7 linked regions of the Homo sapiens genome follow. Changing the gene in region 7 together with the main gene of any one other region gives a genetic interaction. Each region holds a gene or a part of one and is shown on either strand. Other genes may lie near its edges. The genes, in order: NOP16, EIF1AX, ATP6V1A, WDR82, DHFR, CCT6A and ATG10.

The links.
Region 1: of ATG10 (region 7) and NOP16, changing one suppresses a phenotype caused by changing the other (phenotypic suppression), as found in Homo sapiens cells (one large-scale study listed by BioGRID).
Region 2: of ATG10 (region 7) and EIF1AX, changing one suppresses a phenotype caused by changing the other (phenotypic suppression), as found in Homo sapiens cells (one large-scale study listed by BioGRID).
Region 3: of ATG10 (region 7) and ATP6V1A, changing one enhances a phenotype caused by changing the other (phenotypic enhancement), as found in Homo sapiens cells (one large-scale study listed by BioGRID).
Region 4: of ATG10 (region 7) and WDR82, changing one suppresses a phenotype caused by changing the other (phenotypic suppression), as found in Homo sapiens cells (one large-scale study listed by BioGRID).
Region 5: of ATG10 (region 7) and DHFR, changing one suppresses a phenotype caused by changing the other (phenotypic suppression), as found in Homo sapiens cells (one large-scale study listed by BioGRID).
Region 6: of ATG10 (region 7) and CCT6A, changing one enhances a phenotype caused by changing the other (phenotypic enhancement), as found in Homo sapiens cells (one large-scale study listed by BioGRID).

Annotation. Positions count from the first base shown.
Region 1 is NC_000005.10:176,385,799-176,389,960, reverse strand, and holds the start of NOP16 (nucleolar protein 16), read left to right. Parts: upstream 1-1,362; 5' UTR 1,363-1,421; coding exon 1,422-1,528; coding exon of another isoform or gene 1,529-1,617; coding exon 1,618-1,726; intron 1,727-3,017; coding exon of another isoform or gene 3,018-3,051; coding exon 3,052-3,121; intron 3,122-3,941; exon of another isoform or gene 3,942-4,031; intron 4,032-4,162. Other genes in the region: HIGD2A (HIG1 domain family member 2A, mitochondrial), read right to left, coding at 464-630, 988-1,141.
Region 2 is NC_000023.11:20,123,862-20,128,338, reverse strand, and holds the end of EIF1AX (eukaryotic translation initiation factor 1A, X-chromosomal), read left to right. Parts: intron 1-27; coding exon 28-33; 3' UTR 34-3,814; downstream 3,815-4,477. UniProt on the Homo sapiens protein: Component of the 43S pre-initiation complex (43S PIC), which binds to the mRNA cap-proximal region, scans mRNA 5'-untranslated region, and locates the initiation codon. This protein enhances formation of the cap-proximal complex.
Region 3 is NC_000003.12:113,791,555-113,796,031, forward strand, and holds part of ATP6V1A (V-type proton ATPase catalytic subunit A), read left to right. Parts: intron 1-3,317; coding exon 3,318-3,440; intron 3,441-3,535; coding exon 3,536-3,650; intron 3,651-4,321; coding exon 4,322-4,385; intron 4,386-4,477. UniProt on the Homo sapiens protein: Catalytic subunit of the V1 complex of vacuolar(H+)-ATPase (V-ATPase), a multisubunit enzyme composed of a peripheral complex (V1) that hydrolyzes ATP and a membrane integral complex (V0) that translocates protons.
Region 4 is NC_000003.12:52,271,747-52,276,223, forward strand, and holds part of WDR82 (WD repeat-containing protein 82), read right to left. Parts: intron 1-4,477. UniProt on the Homo sapiens protein: Regulatory component of the SET1/COMPASS complex implicated in the tethering of this complex to transcriptional start sites of active genes.
Region 5 is NC_000005.10:80,627,898-80,631,503, forward strand, and holds part of DHFR (dihydrofolate reductase), read right to left. Parts: intron 1,269-3,606; coding exon 1,190-1,268; 3' UTR 1-1,189.
Region 6 is NC_000007.14:56,054,765-56,058,264, reverse strand, and holds part of CCT6A (T-complex protein 1 subunit zeta), read right to left. Parts: intron 2,901-3,500; exon of another isoform or gene 2,763-2,900; intron 2,642-2,762; coding exon 2,468-2,641; intron 1,955-2,467; coding exon 1,851-1,954; intron 273-1,850; coding exon 162-272; intron 1-161. UniProt on the Homo sapiens protein: Component of the chaperonin-containing T-complex (TRiC), a molecular chaperone complex that assists the folding of actin, tubulin and other proteins upon ATP hydrolysis.
Region 7 is NC_000005.10:82,163,445-82,167,921, reverse strand, and holds part of ATG10 (ubiquitin-like-conjugating enzyme ATG10), read right to left. Parts: intron 3,524-4,477; coding exon 3,385-3,523; intron 1-3,384. UniProt on the Homo sapiens protein: E2-like enzyme involved in autophagy. Acts as an E2-like enzyme that catalyzes the conjugation of ATG12 to ATG5. ATG12 conjugation to ATG5 is required for autophagy. Likely serves as an ATG5-recognition molecule. Not involved in ATG12 conjugation to ATG3.

The sequences.
Region 1 (4,162 bases), about 94 Mb from region 7:
TCCGCTCGCTTCGGCCTCCCAGAGTGCTGGGATTACAGGTGTGAGCCACTGCGCCTGGCCAAATCTCTGCTTTCAAAGTGCCCTGGGTGGCTGTTACTAGGAAAGTTCGGGAATCACTAGACTACACGATTTCTAAGCACCACTCCAAAGTCCGTTTCCTCCAAAATCAAAGACCAAAAACCATGGGGATGATACTGAATTAAATACAAGTGGATTTTTAGAGTTTATTAAGCAGGGGAGTGGAGGGGAGATGTGGCACAAATAGAAGTATGTAACATTCAAACAACAGCATCTAGGATTTTTGAAAAAACTTTCGGTTACAGTTACACAAAGGGTCACTTCCTCCCCAGCGACACATGGGCCTCTCAAAGGAGAGGAGGGAGTAAGTCCCACGGTAGGGCCAGTGGTTGCTCCCTGGGTTTTGGAATCATTTCTGCGGAGCTTTCAAGGCCAGACCCTGGGCTTAGGGTCGAGACTTCATAGCAGTGACAGCCAGACCCAGCAAGATGGCTGCGACCGTGAAACCCTGGGCGGCGATCCGGGTGCGCATCATGAGCTGAGAGCGCTGGCTGTTGCCCCGGTGGAAGGAGTAGAGGCCGTAGGTGAGGGCGGCCGCCGTGGCCAGGCAACCTGAGGAGGGGACAAAGCAACTGGGAAACAGCAGGTCGGGCCCCGCAGGTCATTCCCCGCTTTGGGTCTCGCTTCCCCAAAGCCAAGATCTCTGGATCACAGCGGAGGGAGGGCGGCGAGGGTAGGTCGAGTCGAGGTCTTCCTAGTTACAGAGTCCTCCCAATCTTAGGCCCCAAATCCCGCCCCCTAAACCCGCTGCTCCCGCTCCAATCAGTTTCGCCCCTCACCGCCCCGCCCCCTCGTCTCTTCTCTAGTCCGCTCTCCTTCCGCTCCCCGCTAGCGCTCTGGTCCTTCTCTACTTCCTTCCCTCCGACATCACTGTCCTCTCCTTGTGCAGTTCCTACCGCACCCACTTACCTATGGGTACCACCGGGTTCTCGCGGGTCTTGCGAACGAACTTTTCCTTGAAACTCTCTGGATTCCTGTAAACAGTGGGGCTCAGCCCCTCAATGACTGGAGGCTTCGATGGTTCAAAGGGGACCTCCGGAATCACAGGGCCGGGAGTCGCCATGTCCGGGCCACAGCAGCAGGAGAAAATCGGGACTCCGACCTCAGCCTCCCGGTGAAGGTCATGAAAGGGGCGGGGAAACGAATAAATTGAGCCTTGTACGCAGGCGCAAATGCTCGTTGCATCCTGGGAGTCGTAGTGCTCAGCACGGTAGTGCTACAAAAGGACTACATTTCCCCAAATGCCCGCAAAGCCTTGTGCACGCCTTCCGGAAGGAGTTTGTTACACGAGGTCTGAGAGACAGAGGCAGCGTGTTTGAGCTGCTGGTGCGGTGGTCAGCGCGATGCCCAAGGCCAAGGGCAAAACCCGGAGGCAGAAGTTTGGTTACAGTGTCAACCGAAAGCGTCTGAACCGGAATGCTCGACGGAAGGCAGCGCCGCGGATCGAATGGTGAGGGGGCTGGGGTTCCGGGTGGCCGTGGGCCTCGGCCGGGACGGTCCGCGAGATGACGGATCCGCGATGTCTCTCTTTGCCGGTAGCTCCCACATCCGACATGCCTGGGACCACGCTAAATCGGTACGGCAGAACCTGGCCGAGATGGGGTTGGCTGTGGACCCCAACAGGGCGGTGCCCCTCCGTAAGAGAAAGGTACTGACATGGCAGGGTCTCGGTCCTTGTCTTCTTTACTCTTCCCCCGCCATACTGACCTAGGTGTCAGAACGTGGTACTGCCCATTCCTTCCCTCAGGCCCTTCCGAGTTTTCGACCTCCCCACAGTCAGAACGCTCAACTGACGTTGAGCAAGGGTCTCTTTACGACCTTCGTCACACTCCCTCCCCAGCACACATTCCCCATACCCCCTCTACTCAGTCTTTTTTCTCTGAAATTAACCCATTAGCATCTCAACGGTATTTTCCTTAATTTATCTTTTTCTACCCTTAACTTTCCTAATTAGTACTCCCTAAGAGTTGGAGATCTTTACTTACACCTTTTCTTTGTTATTCAATCATCCTTGGTCTGAGGCTTCCCTAGGCTTCCCTGACTGCAGTCTCCTTCCCGGGTTCAAGCTATATCCCACCTCAGCGTCCCAAATAGCTGGGATTATAAGCGTGTGCCACCATACCCGGCTGATTTTTGTGGTTTTAGTAGAGGCAGGGTTTCGCTATGTTGGCCAGGCTGGGCCTCAAGTGATCCGCCTGGCCCCCTGGAGGCTTCAACAACTATTAAAAGAATCCAGGTTCCCAAAAGAAAAGCAAGCAATTCATCTTTCTCTGCCTGCCTATCTATAAAATGGGTATAACACTCCTTGCCTTAGGGACTATCTAACTGTGTGGCTGTAGCCTCACATTTATTCAAGAAATGGTAGTGCCATTTTCCTCTGGCATGAAAGAATAAAAAGAAACTTGCCTAAGGCAATGGAACAAATTCATTCGCGAAGCCCATTCATTAGGTTAACTACTTATTGAGAACATGTCACATCCTAAGCACCCTGGGGATTTAATAGAGAACAAAACACAAAGTCCTTGTCACCAAGATTGTGTTGGGGGTAAAAGGCACAGACGGATTACTTGAGGCCAGGAGTTTGAGACCGGCCTGGCCAACATGGCAAAACCCCATCTCTACTAAAAACACAAAATTTAGCTGGGCATGGTGGCGCATGATTGTAATCCCAGCTACTTGAGAGGCTGAGGCAGGAGATCACTTGAACCCGGGGGGAGGTTGCAGTCAACCAAGATTGTGCCACTGCATTTGAACCTGGGCAACAGAATGAGACTCTGTCTCAAAAAGAAAAAGAAAAAAAAAAAGAGAGAGAGAGAGAAAAAGCCTCCAGGGCATTAGTTCTCATTGTTACCTACTTCTACCTAACCGTGGGCAGGGATTCTTATGGGTTAGTAGTTGTGTTGGGATAAGCAGGAGTCTATAACTTTCCCTCATCAAAGATCCTTCTGGTCTCAAGGGCTCTGTTCTCTGCAGGTGAAGGCCATGGAGGTGGACATAGAGGAGAGGCCTAAAGAGCTTGTACGGAAGCCCTATGTGCTGAATGGTGGGTGTGGTCCATATATTCCTTTAGGTCACTGTCCTGCACTGTGGGAAGCTGGGAAGGGCCCTAAGATGTCCTCATTTTGCAGATGGAGAAACCAAGTTTCAGAGGGGAGAAGTGAGCTGGTTCAAAGTTCACAGAGTTAGGACTGTGTCCTGGCTGGCTCATTTTTCATTGTACTGACTAAACCCTGACCTTACTGTGTGAACTAAGGTCAGAGATGTTTAGGGAGGATGTACCCAGGTGCCTGGGAGAATAGAAGAGAAACCAGTAAATCTCTGGCATGGGTATGGCTTCTCATGAATTTAAGGATGAACTGATTTTTAGGGATTCCACCATCTCAATAAATGTTCCAATGACAAAATCGATTTTATGTATATTAAGGCTATAGAGAGTGAACGCTAAAACGGAGGAGAGTAAACCCTACAGGAAAGTGGGAATACTCTAGAATTCTTCATTCATCCTTCCCCTTACCTGTCAGGGAGTTTAAGCAGCTCCCCTAAAGATAAAGGATTTGAATGGCCAGACATTTGATACAGAATTCCTTGAGTTCCTGTCTTTTATCTCAGTGGTTCTCATAAGAATTACTGCACAGGATTGTATATACCAAGCCATAGGCACTTACTGTAGTCAAAGAGGAACATTTTTAAAAATTTTAAAATGTGGTTAAAAAACACATAAAAGTTACCATCCTAACCATTTTTAAGTGCACTGTTCAGTAAAGGATATTGACTTTGTTGTGCAACAGGTCCCTAAAACCTTTTCATTTTGCAAAACTGAAACTATACCCATTAAACAACTCCCCATCTTCCTCTACCTCCAGCCCCTGGCAACCGTGTCAAAGATAATTTTGACTATATACAATATGAGGACCTAACCTCTGGATATGATTCGACTACTTCATTTCTCTGAGGTAGCTCTTTCTCTCTCTTTCTAGATGAGAAATGGAGTAGGATTTGCCTGTCTATTTTAAAAGTGAAGCCATTAGTTGGCTCCACATCCTGGCTTTTTCTCTCCCATGGAGCACTAGTAAGGTGCTGGGGC
Region 2 (4,477 bases), on a different chromosome or scaffold from region 7:
TTCATCTGATGTTCTTTTCCCTTCCAGATCTAAATTGAACTCAACATTTTACATTCCATCTTTTCTGAAGATTGTCCTACAATTTGGATTTTGATCATGACAAAGAAGATTAAAATTTCATTAGCATGAATGCAATTTGTTAAAGCAGACTGATTTGTTTCTAAGATATTTTTGGTTTTTTTAAAACTGATAATAATGCTGAATTATCTTAAGTGAGATGTTAAGCCCACTTTGTTCTTTTAATGTAATGGAGCTTATGGGTAGAAGACCATGTCTACTAATTACAAAAAAAAAAAAAAACCATGCATTGCTGCTTTTCCTACCACTTCCAGTAAGAAAATGGGTGTTTTGAAGAAATCATTTGCCTTGTCCTCACGGAATCTGATTAAGCCCTGGCCTCTTGATTGTATAGAGTCATTGTGTATATTCCAGTTACCTAGATATTCCCTTGAGATTTTGATACAATTTGAGGGAGGCAGAAGTCTGCAGTTGAAGAAAAAAAATAAGTCTGTTTGTCATATTTAAGTAGCCTGTGGCTATTTTTATACTGATTTTGATATCATGTTCTTTTCATAGTCGTATTTTGCCACCGTAAACATAAAAAAAAAAAAAAAGATTTCCAAAATGCCGTTTTCAGAACCTGGGTTTTAATAGCAGTATTGAATTTGTAAGCTTAGTAGTTGCAGAAATTGAACACTAGGTGGCACTCAGTTATCTTAACAGGGGAAGTACTGATACAATTGTTGACTTTTCTTTTACTATGTGTAAGAAATACCCCAAACATGAAAAGATTGTTTTGATCATATGCATGTATGTAGAATATTTTTGCAGAGCAGAAAGATTATGTTAGAAGTGTGATTTTTATTTTCAGAAGTCATATACATGTAAGCTACAATTTTGAGTGCTTTATAAACACTTAAGATATATATATAAATTTTAATTTCATAGCAACTTGTAAAAAATAAAATACTTGTTGAAAAGCCTTTTTCAACATATCCCTAAGCTAAGGGAAGAGGAAGGAATAACAACTCAGTGAAAAGATGGTCTCCAGTTTCTGAATGAAAAAGCTACAGCTGAGAAATAAAATAAAATGTCATGCTGCAGAATATGTTATACCCTTATTTTGTGTTAAGGATATATTTTATTATGTGAATGGTTTTGTTTTTGTTTTTTGTTTTTGTTTTTTGCTTGTATTGGGAATTAGCTTTACTGGTAACTTCCTTATTTAGTTTTTAGTGGTCAACTCTAATAAAATGAAACTAGGGCTGAGCTAGTTAGCCCTCACTAGCCAAACTGAAACTCTATGCAACATTAAAAGAAGAGATCCATCATGTAGCTTGTGACACTTTTATTTTATTAGTCACCGGGGAACTTTTCAGTGATGAAAATACACAGGGTAATAAACCTTCACATGGCTTCAAAAGGAAAACAAGCAAATCTTCTCTAATCTACTCTTACTATAATTTCCTAAGTGTACACCAAACTCTGGATTTAAAAATCTGAAGTACTATAGAACATTAAGTTGAAGAATGGAAATTAAGAGTACGTATTCATGGTTTATATTTCTTATTCTATGGAGTTCGTGAACACATCTAGGTGGAATGCATCTGAGACTAAGGGCTGGTTTTTAATCCTCATAAGAAACCAGCCTTGAAGAATTAACAATTCTCTTCATTGGTATTCTAAACCTCCTAAGATATTTAGGCTTCTGTACATAAAAGTGTTTTTGCTAAATTTACAGTATATATAGATCCTTTCATATTATTTTACTAAGAATGTTTGAACTTTGCATATTTGATATAGTTCCTGGTAGGAATAGCACAGCTCAAACATTAGTTTTTCTACTTACCTCCTCTAACACGTGGTTTGTCTGGAGAGTTTCTAAAAATTCAGCTATAACCCCAGTTCATGTATTTACTGGTGATTGTTCTTGCTGAGGTAGTAACAGCCCAATCTTGGGCTGTTAAATCCTAGGAAATCTCGAATCATAGTGATTAAAATAGTTGGGGTAAAGTTGTAGCTTATATGCAATACTACTTGGAGGAATTCTTCTACTAATTTGTATTTAATGTGGAAATTGTATAGTTTCATTGATTTAATCATAAATAATGGAAATGGTCTCCAAGAAGTTTTATTTTTCATTTTTTTGCTTATACACTCTGATTCCTATAATACAGTGCTATAAGCTATGCACAGAAAATAAAATGTTTGAAATCCAAGAATAATGGTTCTTACTGCTAAGAGGGAGTAATAGTTATTACTAATGATTTTGATTGGGTTGCATTTTTGTTGCAATGTTTATTCCACTTGCAGTTAGAATATGAATATGTTTTATCACTAGTGTGGCTAAATAACCAAACATTTGTGTAAAAAAAAAAAAAAGCCAAGATTTCATTGTTTGTTGAATATTTCTTAAGCATCTGGCCCCTAAAGAGACCGCTTCTTACCAAGCCTGTAAACTATGCATGATGGAAATTCTTGTATTTTATTTAGGAATGGCTGTTGGTTTACTCACCACATCTGTGGAATCATGGCTATAAATGTTTGCTTACAAACTCTTTGTGACTTGTAATTTAACTTAATCTCATCTAATGTAAATATTAGATTATGATGTTCAGTAACATCTTCCATAGGTATAAACTGCTGTCATTATTGATTTCAGAGTAACTCTGAGTAATCAAATAGGTAAAAGCATGTTTTGAGTAAAATAGCTAGATTTATACTTTACTTGTATACAGACTTAACAACAACCGGTATTGACTGGATTGACAGCTAAAGTATCAGAATGAAAGCAAGGTTTTTTTGATGTTACCTGACTGTCATAAAGATGAAAATGATTTGTATTGGTATGAAATGCTTATCTTTATTCTACTTCGTAAGGGTAAGTTTTATTTATACTCTTTGGACTCCCATGAACTTTTGCACACTGCTTTGTGTTTTTGGTTTACCCTAAACTACCATCCTTTTTATCTTTGCTTTTTTTCTTCCTATTCAGAAAAGAGCAAAATGTGAAAAGACACAAGACTCTCAGGTATAGAATGAACTGAGCAATTTGGAGAATGTATTGGACTTTGTCCTCTCTTATTCCCCCCTCCTAGCCCTGCAAGTTGCTAGGTACTTGTGAGGCAGTGTACTGGAGAGGGGAGAGCATGGATCCTGGGGTCAAAGGGCCTTTGCCCCCACCCTTACTTGGCCCTCTACCTGCAGGTGACCACTGGCACATTCTCCTGCTTGTCTCAGCTTCAGGTTCTTCACCTCTAAGATGGGGATGATGAAAACAGTACCTGTCATGCAGAATTGTTGGGAGGATTGATAATTTAGATGTTTATACATGTAATGTACTTAGATCAGTGTCTGCTCTTTTCACTTGATATCCAGTACTATGTAAGATAGAAGGTGCATGTCTTCTGTATTCTGTATTTCCCATTTCTTTTGCGTGCAGTCTTTGATTCGTACAATAGAAGGAACACGTAGAATGTATATTTGTACATTCATGTCAACATAGTATTTGAAATTGCTACCAAACTCATTTAATTTGGCATAAGACTAACAGATGAAGTCTCTCATTTGCTTGAAGATATTTTACAAAATACCAACTGTTCTATATTTCTTTAGAAAAAGATTATAGTTATTAATATTGATACCTCTGATAATATTTTATTCTTAAATCTTCAGTGATTCCTTTTACTATAGATTCATGACAGCTAATTAGTACTAACTGATTTAGAGGTTTCCTTTCCCATCATATGGAATGATGTAAAGAAATCAGATACAAACTACTGCAATTAGAAAATAAAATATGAACAACTTTCAACAATGTATACAATTGATTCTTTTCTAACTTTATAACATTTTAAACTATTTATTCATATGACTCTTTTCCAAAAATTTGCTGTTTTTAAAACTTAATTGTGATATATAAGGAAAAGGTATACCTTGTTTTTATTTTTGTCTGTTTTTGGTTGTTTGATCTGAATGAATCCATTTAGCCATATTCCAGATATGGGGTTGCATTTTCTCAGCAAGTGAATTTGTCACAAATCTGTGCTGAAGAAGGCATTTTCTAATGGTAAGTCACTTCAGCAGAGTGACTTCAGATTGCAAAGTCACATTCAACAGACCTTTACTTTATACGATGCAGAGACCTATAGGTGAAGTAAATACTTACACTTCTGGCCAACTTGCCCCCTTTTAAAAGCCCAGTCTGTACTGCCATTCCAGTCCATTGTTTTGTTCAGTTCACAACTTGATGTTGGTAGATCAGAAAGTAGGGACAAAGTCCGAGTCAAGTCCCATTGCTGATTTCTGTGCTGTCAGATACAAAATTAGTTGGACTTCGCAGATTTGATAACGTTTAATACATATTTACAATTTTAAACCTGTCTTAGGAATCTAACAATGGGATTTTTTTTTGTTGTTTTTTTCTTGAGACAGAGTCTCACTCTGTCGCCCAGGCTGGAGTGCAGTGGTGCAGTCT
Region 3 (4,477 bases), on a different chromosome or scaffold from region 7:
TGAGAGGGCTGGCTGTGACTGTGTACCAGGGTAGCAGGAATTCTTCATGGTAACTTGTGAAGTTTATTATGGCATGCAGCTGTGTAAAAAAGCTATTTTACTCTTCTTGCCTGATACCAGAAATCAGCAGCTGTAAGACCATTCACAGTGAATTCTCCTCTGTCTCACCCACTTTTCATTTAGTGAAAATAGGGAGTACCTACTTGTGTTTTATTCATCCCTATCTTCCTGCTTCTCTTTGATGCCAAACTGAGTACAAGGAACTCCTTCCTGCGACTGGCCATGTAGCTTTTTGCAGTGTTCCAAACAAAGCACTCTTGCTTTGTTTGGAAACAAACAAGGCACTTGAAGATGTGCCTTCAAGTTTGCAGAAGCTTTATCTGAGATGCATGGCCTCAGATGAATTCTTGGCATTTTTCCATACCCTTATTTGGTTTTCACCTTATTTAGGTGACTTTTTAAATTATATTGTTGTGGGACTATGTCTCCTAGTTTTTAATGACTAAATTTGTATTTCTGTATTTCTTGTTCTCCTTGTTTGGAGGTAAGTTTTATGAGGAAGAGACAGTGACATATTCATCTACCATTTTAAGAAAGCTACCTTATTCTTTTAAATGGCTGCACAGTATCCCTTTGTATGGATATATCATAATCAATTTAACTGGCATCTTTTTGGTGGACTATTGGATTCTTTATCGTCGTTTACGATAGGCAGCACTAAAACATCCTTAAACATATATTTTTACACTATTCTTTGTATGTTTTGCATGCATGTTTCTTTGCATGTTTTTTTTTTCCTTAGAGACAGGGTCTTGCTCTATCACCCAGGCTGAAGTGCAGTGGCATGTTCATGGCTCACTGCAGCTTTGACCTCCTGGTCTCAAGGGATCCTCTCATCTCAGCCTCCCAAGTAGCTGAGGCTACAGACATGAGCCACCATGCCTGGCTAATTTTTTTATTTTCTGTAGAGATGGGGGTCTCACTATGTTGCCCAGGATGGGCAACTTCTAGCCTCAAGAGATCCTCCTGCCTTGGCCTCCCAAAGTCCTGGGATTATAGGCATGAACCACCATGCTTGGCCTCTTTGTACATTTCTTAGGGTAATTTCTTAGAAGCAAAATTCCTGCCAATACAGCTGCTAATTATTATTTTACATTCTGATAGCCCTTCAAAAGGGCTAACTGTGGACAAGAGTTTCTGCTTCTCAACATCTTCACCAATGCTAGTTTTTTCAACACGTTCTTATGATAATTATCAAAGATACGGAAAAGTTGAAAGAATGTTACAGTGAATACCATGTACCCAGCACTTAGATTTGACAATTGAAATTTTAACTATTCTTGCTTTATTAGATACCTGTTCAATCTGTATTTAACAATGAACTAGCATCTTTCTTGTGTGTATGAACCATTTAAAAACTGCCTTGTGTTCATTTTCCTTTTGGATGATAGTTGTTTTTCATACTGATTTCTAGAAACTCTTTTTGGTTTTTTGTTGTTTTTTTTTGTTTGTTTGTTGGTTTTGAGACAAAGTCTCACTCAGTCACCCAGGCTGGAATGCAGTGGTGCGATCTTGGCTCACTGCAGCCTCTGCCTCCTGGATTCAAGCAGTTCTACAACCTCAGCCTCCCGAGTAGCTGGGATTACAGGCATGCACCACCACCACACCTGGCTAATTTTTGTATTTTTAGTAGAGATGGGGTTTCACCATGTTGGCCAGGCTGGTCTCGAACTCCTGACCTCGGGGGATCTGCCCACCTTGGCCTCCCAAAGTGCTGGGATTACAGGCTTGAGCCACCGCGCCTGGCCAGAAACTCTTTGATTAATGAATAAATTCGTCCTTTATCTGTCATGAGTTGCAAATATGTCCCAGCTTGTTTATCTCTTGATTTTGTCTGAGGCATATTTTTCTTGTAGGCACTGATACCTGTAGGTCTGTCAGAGAATTCTCACTTACTCATATGTATCTGTCTTTTCTGCCATTTCTTTCTAATATCACAAGTATCTGTGACATTTCATCACAGATTTAAAACACAGCATGCTTGTATAAGAAAGAATCTGTTCTTATTAGATTGGAATATGTGGTAATTATTGTGTTGTTGAAGCCTTAATATTGATAAGTAATGTTTCCTAAAGACTTTCTTCATGAGACCATTTTATGGATGCCTGAACAGTCAGTATTTTTTATTCTGAAAGATGCAATATGATAAATAGGAAAGTACTGAATTTTCCACTAATTATGTTAATTTTACTTATATAAACCTCTGTTTCTTTACCAGTAAAATAAAAAAACCAAGGCATTATAAAAGTTCCAAAATCTTTTGGAACTTTTATAATATAACTATATATTTTTCCTAATATCTTAGTGTTTCATAGCGCTTTGTACTTTTTAGATGACATTTATTTAATTCACTTCATCTGCCATATATACAAGTATATAGGGCAGGCGTTATTCCATTTTTAATAGGTTAGGAAGCCACACTGGGAAATCAAGTTATTTTGCTAAGGTTAATGACAGAATAGGAACTAGAACCCAACACTCGTTTCTGTATATTAGCTGCTTATAAGTGGTTTACTGTCTAAATTTACAGGATAGGACCTGATCTGCATAGCAGAATAATCTGGACAATTAAGATATTACTCATTTTAATAACATTTGCTACTTTTGAAAAGTAACCACCCAAGCTGATTGGTTAAGGGTTACTTTTGCATGCATACATGTTTGTGTGTGTGTATGTGATATATAGAGAGAAGCTACATTTGAAAATTAATTTCAGACTTAATTATTTCAACAAAGAATAGAGAAAGTCATTTCCTGCTTTCTAAAATGTGCATTATATTAGGGCCAGCTAGGCTATGGCATCAAATAATTCCAAATATATATTTGCTCAATATAATAGATGTTTATTTCAAGTGTTCAGGGCACTCTTTACTCTGTCATTCTGAGCCATGATCCAGCCTGAAATGAGCTCTACCATTTTCAACACATGGCTTCCAAGACTACTGGGAGTTCTTTCCATTTCAGTAGGCCAGAAGGAAGAAAGAGTATGGAAGAGCGTGTGACTTGCCTGACCGTAGAACACATTATTTTGACTTGAGTTTTGTTAGCCAGAGATCAGTTACATGGCCATATCTAAGTGCACAGGATGCTAGGAAACAATTCAGTGTGTGCCCAGAAAAAGAGGAAGAGCAGCTTTGAGGGAGCCACTAGCAGTCTACGTTGTGTACTTATTGCTTTAAGGTTTTCTTAAGGGTGGAAAAAAACAGGATTTTTATATGCTAGCATTGTAACTTATAATAATATTCTTCCCAATTTAGGAATCACACTGTCAGAGTACTTCCGTGACATGGGCTATCATGTCAGTATGATGGCTGACTCTACCTCTAGATGGGCTGAGGCCCTTAGAGAAATCTCTGGTCGTTTAGCTGAAATGCCTGCAGGTAAGTCTGTGTATTGCTTATCATGTAAACAAGACTGATGGGATTTTCGGGGCTGGCTTAGAAACTCTGTTTTAAAATTTCTTTTCATTTTTCAGATAGTGGATATCCAGCCTATCTTGGTGCCCGTCTGGCCTCGTTTTATGAACGAGCAGGCAGGGTGAAATGTCTTGGAAATCCTGAAAGAGAAGGGAGTGTCAGCATTGTAGGAGCGTAAGCACCCACACTATTTACTTTGCAAAAGGAAAAAAGTCACAGATGTATTAAAGAGAGAAAAAAAGTCACTTATTTTAAAGAGAGAATATTTAGCTCCCGCTGGGAGCAGCGGTTCTTAAGGAGGGTTGCACTCCAGAGTCACCTAAGGAGCTCTTTGAAGATGCACATGTTTAGGCAATTTCTACATGTCCTGGTTCCATAGGTTTGACTTTAATTTATATATTTATATGTTTAATTTAGATATTTATTTAATTTTTATAATTTAGAAAATTATAGACATAATAAGGTGAGATTGCATCACGGTAAAAAGAAAGTGAAGATTCGTGATCACTACATAAAGCCATACTTTTTTCTTAGAGCGTTTCCTCCTTGCTTCATCTATTTGATTAGAATAATAAAATTGATTATAATAAAATATCTATCTCATGTCTCATAATAGAAGGTGTTCTGTAGTTTCTATTGTTGTTTACAACTTAAATACTGGCTTTTGTTTAAGATTTTTAGGTAAGATTTTCTTTCCAAAGGTCATTTCTAAAGTTATTTACATTAAAAAGTTATTTACATTAAAATCGACTTTAAAAAAAGTTAACATTTATATATATGTTATTTTTCATAAGCATTTCTAATGACCATTTTTTTTGTAATGACCATATTTTTTTTAAATTTAGAGTTTCTCCACCTGGTGGTGATTTTTCTGATCCAGTTACATCTGCCACTCTTGGTATCGTTCAGGTATGTCTTTCCCTAGTATAGTCAACTTCTGAGCCTTTCCTCCTCTCTGCAGCCCCTGCTGTTCTAATGCGATCTAATGTAATCGTTGTGAA
Region 4 (4,477 bases), on a different chromosome or scaffold from region 7:
TTCTCTAGCAAAACCAGTTAAATAGTTCCTTTGCTTTTACTTTAAAGCAAAATCACACATTTCTGGCCACAAGGTGGTGGCTCACATCAGTCATCACAGCACTTTGGGAGGCCGAGCCAGGCAAATCACCTGTAGTCAGAAGTTCGAGAGCAGCCCAACATGGTGAAACCCCGTCTCTACTAAAAATACAAAAATTAGCCGGGTGTGGTGGCACACACTTGTAATTCCAGCTACTCAAGAGGCTGAGGCAGGAGAATTCCTTGAACCCAGGAGGCAGAGGTTGCAGTAAGCCAAGATCGTGCCACTGCAATACAGCCTCTGCGACAGAGTGAGACTCCACCTCAATAACAGACAAAAAATCACACATTTCCAAGCTAGAGGTTATCAATCTCCATTTGTTGAAGTTCCTTAAATGTCTCCCTTTACAGAACCTTGAAGAGCAAGGCTAAAACTGGTCTCAACAGAACCTTTAACCAAAAACTCTAACACATACTGGTTAAGTTAGAAAAATTTTAGGCTGGGCGTGGTGGCTCACGCCTGTAATCTCAGCACTTTGGGAGGCCGAGGAGGGTGGATTGCCTGAGGTCAGGAGTTTGAGACCAGCCTGGCCAACATGGCGAAACGCTATCTCTACTAAAGATACAAAAATTAGCTGGGTGTGGTGGCCCACGCCTGTAGTCCCAGCTACTCAGGAGGCTGAGGCACGAGAATCACTTAAGCCTGGGAGGCAGAGATTGTAGTGAGCTGAGATCGCGCCACTGCACTCTAGCCTGGGCAACAGAGCAAGACTCCATCTCAAAAAAAAAAAAAAGAAAAATAAAAATTTGAGACTTAAATATCTATGTAAATCTAGATTCAAATGCTAAAATAACTCTCCAATACGATCAACTGAAAAAACAGGAAAGCCTTTAACATAATGTCCTACATTTAGTTCTTTAGAAAGATTTCATAAATCCTGTACTAATGTTAACCAAGAGTTCCAATTTATGAAAAGGAAAGCTAATCCTCTCAATGTAAAATCCTCTCAGAATCTAGGTACTAAACAATCACGACTCAAGCAGTCTTTAAGAAGTCAGTTATTTGCACTTTCAATTTTTGTTAAAGTGAGGCCAAGGGCTTCCCTACATGAAACCCATTTCCAACAGACTTCTCACTACAAATACACTGGATTTTCCACATTCTTACCTTTACTGAAATAACACTTCACTCCTAAAAAGATCAGCAAAGGCTACTTTGCCAAGTGCACTGTCTGGGGTTCTGATGTGGGGTTACTGTGTGGTAACCAGTGAGGCAGTCTCAGTGTGTGGCTGTATACTTACTCTCTACATAGTTGACTCTGCTACCAGTGGAAGAAGTTTATATCAGTTATTTCATCCCATCTACAATAGCAAAGACAGAAACTGGCCGGGCGCAGTGGCTCACGCCTGTAATCTCAGGCTTTGGGAAGCCAAGGTGGGTGGATCACCTGAGGTCAGGAGTCTGAGACCAGCCTGGCTAACAGGGTGAAATCCCATCTCTACTAAAAATTAAAAAAATTAGCCAGGTGTGGTGGTGGGCACCTGTAATCCCAGTTACTTGGGAGGCTGAGGTAGGAGAATCACTGGAACCCGGGACATGGAGGTTGCATTGAGCCAAGATCGCGCCATTGTACTCCGACCTGGGCAACAAGAGCGAAACTCCGTCTTAAAAAAAAAAAAAGACAGAACATGAAGAGCCAACTCTAACTTGACAAGTTGAAAGAGAATAGTGTAAGGAAAATTTCTGGTTCCACTTAGATCTGGTCTATTTGTCTCAAATTTATCAAAAACACTAACCTGAGATTTTTTTTCCTGATAACAGAAATCTACTGCCTCATTTCATTTCCCAATTTGATTTTTATTATTTTTATGTTTTTGAGACATTCTCGCTCTGTTACCCTGGCTGGAGTGCAGAGGCACGATCTCGGCTCACTGCAACCTCTGCGTCCCCGGTTCAAGCAATTCTCCCTGCCTCAGCCTCCTGAGTAGCTGGGATTACAGGCCCCTGCCACCAGGCTCAGCTAATTTTTGTATTTTTCTGTATAGACAAGGTTTCACCACATTGTCCAGGCTGGTTTTGAACTCCTGACCCAGGCGATCCACCCGCCTCGGCCTCCCAAAGTGCTGGGATTACAAGTGTGAGCCACCACACCTGGACTCATTTCCTAACTTGAAAGCAAGATTATACTGTACTGCATCCATGTGGGTCTTACAAAATACATGCACAACATTTTTCAAATATTTTGGTAAGCTTCCTTCCTCAAACTATAATTCTGGTGATCAAGCATCAACAAGGAAAATAATATTAACCTTTCACTTTGAGTAATTTGCTTCACCTACCACAAACAATATCCTTTATACTCTTCCAAATTGAAATATCACTCAATGGGCGAACTCCATTGTAAAGAAAATTTAAATGACCAGTAAACTGGAAAATACTAAGCACACAAAATCTTGCTTTAGCCATTTTCAAACTCCCAAATTCTAACACTAGGGTCATCTAATAAAGATACTATGCCTTCGGCCGGTCACAGTAGCTAACACCTGTAATCCCAGCACTTTGGGAGGCCTAGGTGAGAGGATCGCTTGAGTTCAGGAGTTTGAGACCAGCCTGGGCAACCTGGTGAGAACTTGTCTCCACTAAAAATAAAAATAGCCAAGTAAGTTGGCGAGTGCTTGTAGGCCCAACTACTTTGGAGATTGAGGTGGGAAGATCACTTGAGCCCAGAAGATGAAGGCTTTAGTGAACTATAAGCATGCTATTGCACTCCAGCCTGAGCAACAGGGGAAGACCTTTGTCTTAACAACAAACAAACAAAAAAACAAAACAAAACAAAACAAAAAAACAGGGCCGGGTGCGGAGGCTCACATATGTAATCCCAGCACTCTGGGAGGCCGAGGAGACCGAGGTGGGCAGATCACTTGAGGTAAGATGTTGAGACCAACATGGCCAACATTGTGAAACCCCATTTCTACTAAAAATACAAAAATTAGCAGGCACACTGATGGGTGCCTGTAATCCCAGCTACTCGGGAGGCTGAGGCACGAGAATCGCTTGAATCCAGCAGCGAGGTTGCAGCAGTGAGCCAAGATTACGCCACTGCACTCCAGCCTAGGAAAGAGTGAGGCAGTCTCAAAAACAAAACAAAACAAAACAAACAAACAAACAAAAAGAAAGGCCGGGCGCAGTGGCTCATGCCTGCAATCCCAGCACTTTGGGAGGCCGAGGCGGCGGATCACCTGAGGTCGGGAATTCGAGACCAGCCTGACCAACATGGAGAAATCCCGCATCTACTAAAAATACAAAATTAGCCAGGTGTGGTGGCGCATGCCTGTAATCCCAGCTACTCAGGAGGCTGAGGCAGGAGAATCGCTTGAACTCGGGAGGCGGAGGTTGCAGTGAGCCGAGATGGAGCCACTGCACTCCAGCCTGGGCAACAAGAGCGAAAGTCCCTATCAAAAAAATAAATAAATAAAAGATACAATACCATGCCTTCCCAAGGAAATACTTCTTTTCTTCTGAGGTCGGTTTGACCTATACTAGTGACAAAATTTTTCATCATATTATTGCCTAGAATGGAAACTAAAGAGGTTGTCTAATACCCAAAGAAGTAATCTGACCAATGTCACATACCTAGTCACAGGCCAAACTAGTACCCAGTTCCCTCCTAACTACCAGGCCACTCCTTCACCACAGATAATGAAACAAGGTTACAATTAATTGATCAGAGAAAACTCAAGAGCATGCCCTGTAGTATTGTATCAGTACTAAATTTCCTAATTTGGATAACTGTGCTCTGGTTACATAAGAATGTCTTTGTGCTTAGAAAATCCACGTTGAGCCGGGCGCAGTGGCTCATGCCTGGAATCCCAGCACTTTGGGAGGCTGAGGCGGGTAGATCACGAGATCAGGAGTTCAAGACCAGCCTGACCAACATGGTGAAACCCTGCCTCTACTAAAGATACAAAAATTAGCCAGGCATGGTGGCATGCACCTGTAATCCCAGCTACTCAGGAGGCTGAGGCAGGAGAATCGCTTGAACCCAGGAGCCGGAGGTTGCAGTGAGCCAAGATCACGCCACTGCACTCCAGCCTGGGCGACTGAGCGAGACTCCATCTCAAAAAAGAAAGAAAATCCATGTTGAAGTGTTTAGGGATAAAGGGGCTTGATACCTCCAACTCTAAAGGTGGGGGGAGGCACACAGTACATATAAATATTTACCTACAGTCATGAAGCAAATGCAGAAAATGTAACCAGTTATTGAATCATATGGGAGTTCTTTGAAACACTGTAACTTTGTTAGTTTCTAATTATGTAAAAATGCTACGAGTAAATAAACTGCCTTATGTCACAAAACTAGCATTTTACTTTTAACAAGACAGGATTTGGCCAGGCACAGCAGCTCATGCCTATAATCCTAGCACTTTGGAAGGCCAAGGCGGGTGGATCACTTGAGGTC
Region 5 (3,606 bases), 1.5 Mb from region 7:
TACTACATAAAAAGAATGAAGATGTGCCGGGTGTGGTGGCTCAAGCCGGTAATCCCAGCACTTTGGGAGGCTGAGGTGGGTGAATCGCTTGCGGTCACGAGTTCGAGACTAGCCTGACCAACATGGTGAAACCCCATCTCTACTAAAAATACAAAATACAAAAATTAGCCGGGCGTGGTGGCGCGCACCTGGTCCTAGCTACTTGGGAGCCTGAGGCAGGAGAATCGCTTGAATCTGGGAAGGCGGAGGTTGCAGTAAGCCGAGGTCACACCATTGCATGCTAGCCTGGGCAACAAGAGCGAAACGCTGTCTAAAAAAAAAAGAACTTACATACTTAAACATCGAATTGCTTTAAGTGTTTGGCATTCACTGTTCCCGTGCATGCCAGCAGCTTCTTACTGCAAACACCTGAGACTTGCTATAGAGCAGCTGGACTATGTTCCGCCCACACACAGGACAGGGAGCTGACAACCAAGGAGGGGGGCGGGATCAATACTCCAGCTTTCCCCCCTCCATTTCCCTGTATCTCAGCAGTATGGAGCTTGTTATCAATGAGAACCTGCTCGCTGACTTTAAATTGCTTTTCTTACCTTCTCAGTTCAGTTTCTCCGTACCTCAATTGATGATTTCTGGTATGACCTAGCAAATACACTGCTTTCACTGAAATTTCAGTCTTGCAATCTGCTTTGGGTTCCCCAATCTAAGACAGAAACATACTCATTTTCCCATCACTGGACTTCCAGGTTGTTTTCAATTTTTCACTGTTACAAACAAGGTGGCAACATTTATCTACAAACCTCTGGATATACACGTAGGAAGCTTTTGGTATTTCCACTAGTGAAACTGCTCAGTTGAAGGGTATGTGGATCTTCATCTTTAATAAATATTACCAACATGTGAAAAGCCCGACAATGTCAAGGACTGGCAAGAGTGCCACATGTGATGGGTGTGGAATGGCAGCTCACTGTAGCAGGTGCTGGGGACTCAGTTGGGGTCTTGGAGAAGCACTTAGTTATAGCAAGAATGTCTCATAAATGGTATCTGATAGAGACAAGAGTAGTGGGGAATAAAAACTAGTTGCTTAGAAATAATTATAGATCTAAAGTCAACAAAAAACCTTTTCTAATGTAAAAATACATACTTTTTTCAGAGGGAGGGGGAACAACTTAAACTAGAAAACACCTTCATATTAATCATTCTTCTCATATACTTCAAATTTGTACTTAATGCCTTTCTCCTCCTGGACATCAGAGAGAACACCTGGGTATCTGTAAGAAAAAATATATAATTAAATTATGTGTCCATTAAAAACACAGCTTCCCTGATTCTCAGTTTAAATGCATCAATAGTGCATAAAGCAAATAAAAGGTTTCCCTTTTTTCTTCACAATGGTAAGCCACTGTCAAGTTGGATAAATATCATGCTAGTATACTACATATGCAAATGGTAAGAAAAAAACTGTAAACTATATAGAAAGTTAGAAAACAAAAAGTGTAATTTCTCCTTTTTTGTTTCCTTTGGATTCCTCATTCTCTCAAAAACCAGTCAGCAGTTTCCCTTGTATCTTTCCACTCTATCACCCAGCTAACAGGAAATTTCTTAAGAATTTTTTGCAAGACTTACATTTGGTATCACATTTCTTGTGTAAGCAAAAGACAAAAATACAATCTGAAGCTGTTTAGAACATAACTGAAATTATGTGCCCTGGACAGTGACAGGTTCTCTGCTTCTGTTTGATTGATGGAGACTATACTGCCCTAATTCCACAATGTGTGGCAGATTGTAATTCCTTTATTAGGATCTGCTATTCCTGTTCCCTAACTCTCACTTAAGCCTGTGTTCTCTCCAGCTCCCCTTCCAAACCCAGCTTCTCCACTGAGGAATCTTCTGACCCTTCCAGCCTCCAATGAACCCCAATCTTTGGTTACTTCTTCAGTACTATGCAGGCTGCACCCCAGTATGCTCCAGGTGGTCAGGAACGCCTGCTTGAATCAGACTGTGCTTCACTCTGGTTCTGCTGTGTGACATGCCTCCGAGCCTGGCTGTCAATAAAGTCTTCATCCTTGTAAAAAATGTAGCATTGTTGGCCAGGTGCAGTGGCTCACGCCTGTAATCCCAGCACTTTGGAAGGCCAAGGTGAGTGGATCACTTGAGGTCAGGAGTTCGAAACCAGCCTGGCCAACATGGGGAAACCTTGTCTCTAATAAAAATACAAAAATTACCCGGGCATGGTGGCGGGTGCCTGTAATCCCAGCTACTCAGGAGGCTGAGGCAGGATAATTGCTTGAACCTGGGAGGCAGAGGTTGCAGTGAGCCAAGATGGCGCCACTGCACTCCAGCTTCAGTGACAGAGCAGGACTCCGCCCCCATCCCCCAAAACCAAAAAAGAATGTAGCATTGTGCCTAACACATCAAGTGTTCTATAAATGGTGCCTACTAGTATTATTGGTTTGTTTCATTTCTCTTTTTTTTTTTTTTTTTTTGAGACGGAGTCTCGCTCTGTAGCCCAGGCTAGAGTTCAGTGGTGCAATCTTGGCTCACTGCAAGCTCCGCCTCCTGGGTTCATGCCATTCTCCTGCCTCAGCCTCCCGAGTAGCTGGGACTACAGGTACCCGCCACCACATCCAGCTAATTTTTTGTATTTTTAGTAGAGACGGGGTTTCACTGTGTTAGCCAGGATGTTCTCGATCTCCTGACCTCGTGATCCGCCCGCCTCGTTTCTCTATTTTTTAAACTCATTGTAGGCAGGGACAACACAGTAAACTTTTAAGTCTCATGATATTCAATACATTGCTGAGTAATAATAGACATTAACCTTTGCTGACTAATTAGAGATTATGCATTTTTGGTAAAAAAAAAAACAAAAACAGAGATACAATGTAACAAAATTATAGGGAAAAGAAAAAGATACTTTCTGGAATAATTTATATTTCAGGGGAAGAAGCAATGTTTCTATTAACCATTTTCTATTATAATTTTAGTCTCTCTGGAATGAGTCATGAAAAGTAACATCTACATACATTTTTTGTGCAAAATTCTCAAGTGTCAAGATTGTCAGTTCATAAGACAAAAGCAACATATCAAGAAGTTTTTGGGCCATGTGCGGTGGCTCATGCCTCCAATCCCAGCACTCTGGGAGGCTGAGGCCGAGGCGGGCGGATCATCTGAGGTCAGGAGTTCGAGACAAGCCTGGCCAACATGATGAAACCCTGTCTCTACTAAAAATACAAAAATTAGCTGGGCATGGCGGCACGTGCCTGTAATCCCAGCTACTTGGGAGGCTGAGGCAGGAGAATCGCTGAACCTGGGAGGTGGAGGTTGCAATGAGCCAAGATCGTGCCACTGCACTCCAGCCTGGGCAACGGAGCAAGACTCCATCTCAAAAACAAAAAATAAACCAAAAAACCAAAATACAATTAAAATCAAGACTCTACAGGAAGCACAGGCTCAGGAGCAAAGGGATATCCGAGTCATGTGGACGAGTATGCCAGCATCCTGACAGGAAGTTTTAGGGTCAGAAGAAGAAACATCAGCCCATCCAAAACCTACTTCAAGGTGTCCACTGATAAGGGGCATCTGTCCCAGCTCTGGAGCCAACTACTGCCT
Region 6 (3,500 bases), on a different chromosome or scaffold from region 7:
CAATCCTGCCCCTTATGCATCTTCAGAGACTGTTTCCTATAGCTCCCCCAAACCAATTTGAGCATTATTGTCCTTACAGTGGGAAACAAAGTTTCACAAAAAAGTAACTCGCCTAAAATACGAAGCTTCTCCATTTCACTGTTAAGGGGCTATAAACTTACGTTTTCTCATACTCTAATGACACGTTACAAGTGAGGATGTATGCATCCTCCACCCTTTTCTTCATATCAGGATGCCGTGCTCCGTGGTCCAAAACAAGCCCTCTGATTAAGCTGTTTAAACACACACAAAATTATGGTTATTGATTTTCAGATGGGTATTTAATATATTAAACACTGAAATGAGAAGGTATTGATATTTCACGCAGTCACATTTTTCTTTTTTGAGATGAAGTCTCGCTCTGTTGCCCAGGATGGAGTGTAGTGGTGCCATCTTGGCTCACCGCAAGCTCCACCTCCTGGGTTCACACCATTCTCCTACCTCAGCCTCTCAAGCAGCTGGGACTACAGGCACCCACAACCATGCCCAGCTAATTCTTTTGTATTTTTAGTAGAGACGGGGTTTCACCGTGTTAGCCAGGATGGTTTCGATCTCCTGATCTCGTGATCCGCCCGCCTTGGCCTCCCAAAGTGCTGGGATTACAGGCATGAGCCACTGCGCCCGGCCTATTTCTTAAATTACCTGAAGATCCTACGCTGTACAGAAAAGTCTGCAGAGATGGTCTCACTGGTAGGCTGTCAAACTGTGATGACGTCCTTTAAAAACATGTTTTCTACCAAGCACCTGTAATCCCAGCACTTACGGAGGCAGAAGTGAGAGGACACCTTAATCCCAGGAATTTAAAACCAGCCTGGGCAACATAGGGAGACTCCATTCTCCACACAGACACACACACACACACACCCCAAAGGGAAAACAAACATGTTTTCTAACTAACTCTTTGAAAAAAATATTTTTTTAAATTCCTCTACTACTTCTCATTATGCTTTGTACCTAGCAATTCAATAAATGCCAAATGACTGATGTTGTTCACTTTTCAGAATCATTCTAACCATAAACATAACATTCACCTTATTTCAGGAGAAAATATTACTAAAAACAATATTCTCCTAGCAGTTTATCCAACTTATATCTTCAGGTAAATATATAACATTTTATATCCAAAGATATTTTTAAAATTGCCATCTCACGCCTGTAATCCCAGCACTTTGGGAGGCCGAGGTGGGCGGATCACGAGGTCAGGAGATCGAGATCATCCTGGTTAACATGGTGAAACCCCGTCTCTACTAAAAATACAAAAATTATCCGGGCATGGTGGCGGGCGCCTGTAGTCCCAGCTACTCGGGAGGCTGAGGCAGGAGAATGGTGTGAACCCGGGAGGCAGAGCTTGCAGTGAGCCGAGATCATGCCACTGTACACTCCAGGCTGGGCGACAGAGCAAGACTCCATCTCAAAAAAAAAAAAAGCCAACTATCTATATTGTACAAAGCACCCCTAAATTTCTAAACACAGTTTATTTTTTGTTTTTGTTTTTTTTTTAATGGGACGGGGTTTCGCTCTTGTCACCCAGGCTGGAGTGCAATGGTGTGGTCTCAGCTCACTGCAACCTCCGCCTCCCAGGTTCAAGCTATTCTGCTGCCTCAGCCTCCCGAGTAGCTGGGATTACAGTCATGCCCGGCACGCCTGGTTAATTTTTGTAATTTTAATAGAGACGGGGTTTCCCCATGTTGGCCAGGCTGGTCTGGAACTCCTGACCTGAGGTGATTTGCCCACCACAGCCTCCCAAAGTGCTGGGATTACAGGTGTGAGCCTCCATGCCCATTAGTATTTCACAGTCTTCTACCACCTACCTTGTATCAGTTTCAGATTTATGTTTCATCTCCATGATCTCAATCATGAAGAGATCAATAGGTTCATCTTGCTTTTTAATGGCCAAAATGGAGTCCACTACAGCCTGCAATTGGAGGAGCATAACCGTTAAGTAAATTCAATTTGCAGCAGAAACATGTTGCTTTTCAGAAGGCTAAAGTAGGCAGTTTCATTTTACAATTCTACACTGATTTAAGTCTTTTTCTATCAGCAAATAGAATACATTATATGTAAAAGGCAACAGCTGAAGTCATTTACATTTCTGAAATCTCCATCTATAATTCCCAAACATTAACATTAATTAACATTAACATTCCTCGTTTTATTAAAAATACTGGTAACTGGAAGCTTTCTAATAAAAAAATCTCCACTTTATAAACCTTTTAATGAAAGCTTCAATTTTACTTTTATAACCTGGTTAGGTATACTATTATTTTAATTTCCTCATTTTTAGAGACACAGATTAGGTATCATTGCCACAAAAATGAACCTACACAGCACCTTGTAATTGAAATTGGTAATCATATTCATGTTTCTACTATCAGAGATTTTCTATATAGGTATACTATACCAGACATAGACAAAATTTAATACATACCTCTGTTAAGACATCTGCAAGTTCAGCATGAACTTTAGTACGAAGAGATGTTCTGGCCACATCTATAAGTGTTTCCCTGTCCATCTCTCTGCTTACTTTGACTTCTTCCAAAAACTGAAGGGCCTTTTCCTTTGCAGCTTCAAATCCTTCAGTGATTATTCTAGGATGAAGGCCCTAAAATAAACACACATTAACACTTGCATCTTCAATTAGGTGCAACCATAGTTCATGATAAAGTTCAGGTAATTATTGAAGGAGTGTTCTGGATCATCATACCTTTGAACACGAGGTAATATAATGTGCTGGCTTTCTGAATACATTTAAAAGGACAAATATTCCTTTCAATGCAGAGCAGATGAACAGGTAATGAATGCTCTAGCACAGGGTCAAAGCCAAGGGAACTATAAAGCACACTTGGGTGTTCACTGTGCAAACCACTCTGAATCATTTCAAAACCAACACTGTGTCCCAACAACTCACAGATGGTAGCATTATCCTATCTTTATTTTCTTTCATTTTTTTTGAGATGGAGTTTCGCACTTGTTACCCAGGCTGGAGTACAATGGCACAATCTCGACTCACCACAACCTCCACCTCCTGGGTTCAAGCAATTCTCCTGCCTCAGCTTCCCAAGTAGCTGGGATTACAGGCATGCACCACCACGCCTGGCTAATTTTTGTATTTTTAGTAGACACGGGGTTTCTCCATGTTGGTCAGACTGGTCTCGAACTCCCAACCTCAGGTGATCCGCCCACCTCGGCCTCTCAAAGTGCTGGGATTATGGGCGTGAGCCACTGCGCCTGGACTATTCTATCCTTTCTATAGGTAATCTCAAACTAACTCACATCATTTACTAATAAAAATAAAGACTGTTCTCTTTCTCCAGGAAATTCTGACAATACATTCATATTCACTGAGGTTTGCTTTAACCTTGGAACTAGTCAGGGCTAAAAAAGTGGAATTTATCCAAATATAAGCTTTTGGTTGCCTTTTTCCTAACAAATATGCCTAGTCCTAAACATTCCATTTTTAG
Region 7 (4,477 bases):
CCACCACCTCTCCCAAACCTACAATGACAAAAGTAGTTAGAGAAAAACAGAACATTGGGATGGAAGGGCTTATTTCTTCTCTTAAATCCACGTTGCCCACTTGGTAACTGAGCTCCTGTACACCAAAGTAGTAGAAATGAGAGGCAGAAGCAGAATGCTGTCTCAACTTGGCTGTCTGCCTTCAAGAATTAAATAAAAATACGTGTTTATAGAAGTGGAACAGCTGCTTCAGCTAGTTTGGATACCCACTTTTGAGTCCTCAGGATGTTCTATTTTTCTAAGTCCACTACTCCTATAGTCTCTGAAAAGTATCAGACTAAAGAGTAAAGATACATAGATGGTTTGGGTCTTAGGTCTCCTGGAGACAACAGAATTACTTCCTCTTTCAAAACCTGGCATAGCAGTTGAAGTAGGCACCATCACAATGTTTCCATTCTTGGGCTGTATTTTTTAAATGACTAGAAATTCTTCTTTATCGTTTCACTTAACAAATACTTGATGCTGTGCCACAGCTGAATAAGCCATATATATACATACATATATCTTATACATGTATACACACAAAGCCATAAATAAAGCTTCTCACTTTGTAGGCACTCAGTATCAATTTCCTTCACTCTTGTTTTTATCTTGAAGCTCTATGTTCCAGCATATCATTTTATAGATATAAACAAATATTTCTGCTATAGTACAAATTGTGATATAATAGAATATATGATATGATATGACATGACATGACATGGGAGCGACAAGAATAGATGGCATGTTAACTGAGTCTTGGGCTACTAGTAATTGGCCTGGTGGAAACTGGACCATATAAAGAAAAGGAATTCAAAGTCTAAGGGATTTGCATTTCGAGAACCAGAGTAAAGATTTCTTCTGAAATCTAAACAAGTTGATACAAGAAAGGGTAATGTAAATTTAAATGGAAACTATTTATTACTTGTTTTGCTTTTCCTTAAAAAAATAGGTACAGGGAGAAAATTTAGAGCAAAGCAGAGAAATTAATTTGTACTAACAATCAAATGCAAAAGAAATTATAAATATCTGTCAAAAACAAGGCTAAGTGAACTATTTTTGAAGCAACAACAACAAAAAAAGACCCCTGGGCAAGAAATTTTACAGTCATCCTCTTTCTAGGTCGGAACTCTCTTAGAATGAGACAAAGAAAAATCCGGGCCTGGAATAAGAGGAAGACATTAGGAATCCTTTCACCACACTGACAGAGATTTGTTTAACAAACAGATGAAGGGCCAGAGTAATCAGATATCACAGGAAAAAGTAAGGAGAATAAAAAAGACTGGGGGGGGAATAAATGAAAAATTGTGACTCCAGAGTAAAGGTTGATACATTTTAAAAATATCCATGAGGTTAAGTTAGGTGGAAAGAAAAAATAAATTATTAGAATATGATAAAGGAAAGAAAGAACCATTCTTCATGTTTCTCCACCAGAAAACATTCAGTATGCTGCACAAAAATTAAATTTGATATTTTAATGTACCTGAACAAGCACTAAATGAATTCTGGGCCAAAATAAAATTTTAAATTCCTAATACCCACTCTACACAACACAAAGCAGTGGTGGTGGGGGGCGAATGCTTCTACATAAAAACAAATGACTTGTTTTGGTTTACCTTTATAAGGCATAAATGGAGGGCATTGTAAAAGTATACAAATAGAAGCCAAGAATGTTAATTGTGTTTTTTTAAAAGAATAGAAAATCGTGAAGAAAGGATCACAGAAACTACACCAATGTCATTAAAATATAATTGGACTTGCAGGAACAATTACTGTGCTGTACTGTAAGGGGAGCTGTTGGCACATAAGAGCAAAGCACACATATGAGCTCATCAGCAGGCCTTGGCAAGACCCACTTCCAGCTAGAAGCAGTCATGTTTCAACACCTCTGATTCCCTAATGCTGACAAGCTAAACAACTTGTTTTGTCTCTGGGAGCTCTTCTCTGGTGATTAACTGCTTATGGTGAATACTAATTATATGAAAGTACAGTATTGAAGAAGTAATGTCTTATTTCCTCTACCTGCAGCCTCGACTTGTCTCTGAATCTAGAAGGCAGAGCCATTGCAAACCAGAACCAAGAAAGACATTTTCCTCCCCCTGAATAAACAAATATATCTCCTACTTTTTAGTATAGCACAGCTCACTGACAAGAAACTTCCTTTAACCTCTGGGCTCCAAACCAAATATAATTACCATAAAATGAGTGTTTTAAAGGCTTGTAATAATTATATGGATAAATCCACAGCAAGAGTTTGTGAATTAGTGAACTATCAGTGTCCTCCATTCCCCATGTCCCATGTTGAAAATTTACCCCAAATTGTCAGTTCTTAGGAACTGCACCTCAGATTAAAATCTTCTCACCAGGGAGTCTATGAGAATTTCTTCTTGTGTTTTAAATCCTAAGTGCTTGTTAAACTGCCAACACTGCAAAATTAGAGACCATTAAACAATATAACAGCAAGTGATTAAATCTACCAAACATACATTCAAGCAGCTTAAGCTACTTTTGAATTAAAAATAAAATATCATTGGCTAAATTCAGATGTCTTAGCTATCCAGAAAAAAGTCAGAAGGCTGTTCAAAATGCACAATGCTGCTGATAAGGCCAGATACAAAAGGAGAAATAGGGCAAGGGGTTGGCTGAACAGGAGGCTCATCTTGGTCCCTGGGCCTGGGTGGCAGCACATCCCAATGCTGACCCGGTTTAGGCAGTGGACTCTAAGCGGGAAGCCATGGCTGTGCTGCAGAGTGAGGACGCCATGTGGCTGCTGATTAAATAAGCTTTATTAGCTAAGGCCTCCAAGGAGACAGGGTATTCCACCTTCTTGGCAGGGGAATGAGTTGAGTAACAGCATCACAGGAAGCTAAGGCATTGGAGATGTATAGATGGCTGAAGGAAATGTTAGTGCTATTTTTAAATACAGCTTAAGCTAATTGATAAACATTTCTTAAAATAATTATTAGCTTTTGGGGAAGGAGGCACAGGAGCTTCTGAGTTAATTGGATCATCTGAGATTAAAATAAATTTTTACTGTAAAGTTAGAAGTAAATAAACATTGTAGCTTTAAGTTGTTCCTACTTGTTTAAAGTAAAGAAAAGAAAAAGGGCCAGGGGGCTTAGTCAACTTCAGGCAAAAGGCCAAGAATCTGAAGATCAGACTTAAGGCTGAGATGATATCATTCACGCTGAAGTCTTGATACCCTTTCTGAAGCATGAGAAAATTTAGTGGTAAAACCTTACCTCACCCACAGTTTTCTCATTTTTAACTCTATTTTTTTTCCTCTGGAGAATAATTTTCCAAATATGCTTTTTGCTTTATATGTAAATGTTATAAATTTACTTTTAGCTTCAGACATGTTCTTACCTAAAAAGCTTGCCCTAAAGTAAAGTACAGGCACTTGGTAGCTACAGGAATATAAGACATGATACTCATATTTAATCACTTCGGACGCTGCTGCAGTTTCAATCACTTCACAATCATCCAAGGGTAGCTCGAAAGCCTCCTAAAAAAAAGCAAAAACAAAACGAAAACGGGTTTCTTAATAAGAAAAGTACTAACATGGAGAGGAAAAGAGGAGATTTTCTTCTCACAAAATAACAGTTAAATAAATATAAGGCTATGAGGCAAGGAAAAGGGAGTTTCCCATATTAATGTTTAACATTTGAGTCCTGGGTAAATAGTAAAACCAGAAAACATTAGCATTAAGTAATTCCAGATTGTTTTTGAGACACAAAGAGGCTCTGGATAAAGAAAAAGGAAAAAAAAATCTGAAAAGATCTATTGCCTGAAAAATCTTTACTGTACAATTTTAGCAACAAGATGATGGCTATATAAGCTACCTTCTTCCCTACCTGTGAAAGCTAAAAACATCCTAACAATTGAACAAGAGGCTGTGAAATGTCCCTAAAGATTCTATTGTACTTGCCAAAAGATGATTCATTGTGTGCTGAACAATTCCCAGTTCCATTTTGAATAAGAAAGTTATTTTGCAAGAGGTTGAATTTGTTAGGTATATTTCAAAACCTGAGATGATTCTGTTTTCTTCATTATTGTGCTATCTTTGGTATATTTCTACAATAAATCTTGATTTATAATAGAGTAGATGGCAAATATTAATGTCAACTTGAACAGAGTTTTGTAAGCAGAGATGATGATAGTCATCTCACTTCTCACCTGATCATTTTTTACTGGTTGATTTTTGTGTGTGGGGCTTTTAAAAGAATGTACCTTACTGTTTAGAAGCAATTAATTGGACATGTTGAGTCAGACCCTGGTTCCATCCACTTTCACTTATTTATTGGGGTTGAAGAATTTCCTTTGAAATTAAATTAGTACTAGAAGGAATGAAGCAGGTTGGTTTAGCTCATTTCTACCTCTCATTAAAACAGTAACAACAATGAACAATCAGAAATAACTAAGGAAAGATTTCATACTTTATCAATATGAAATAAGGTTT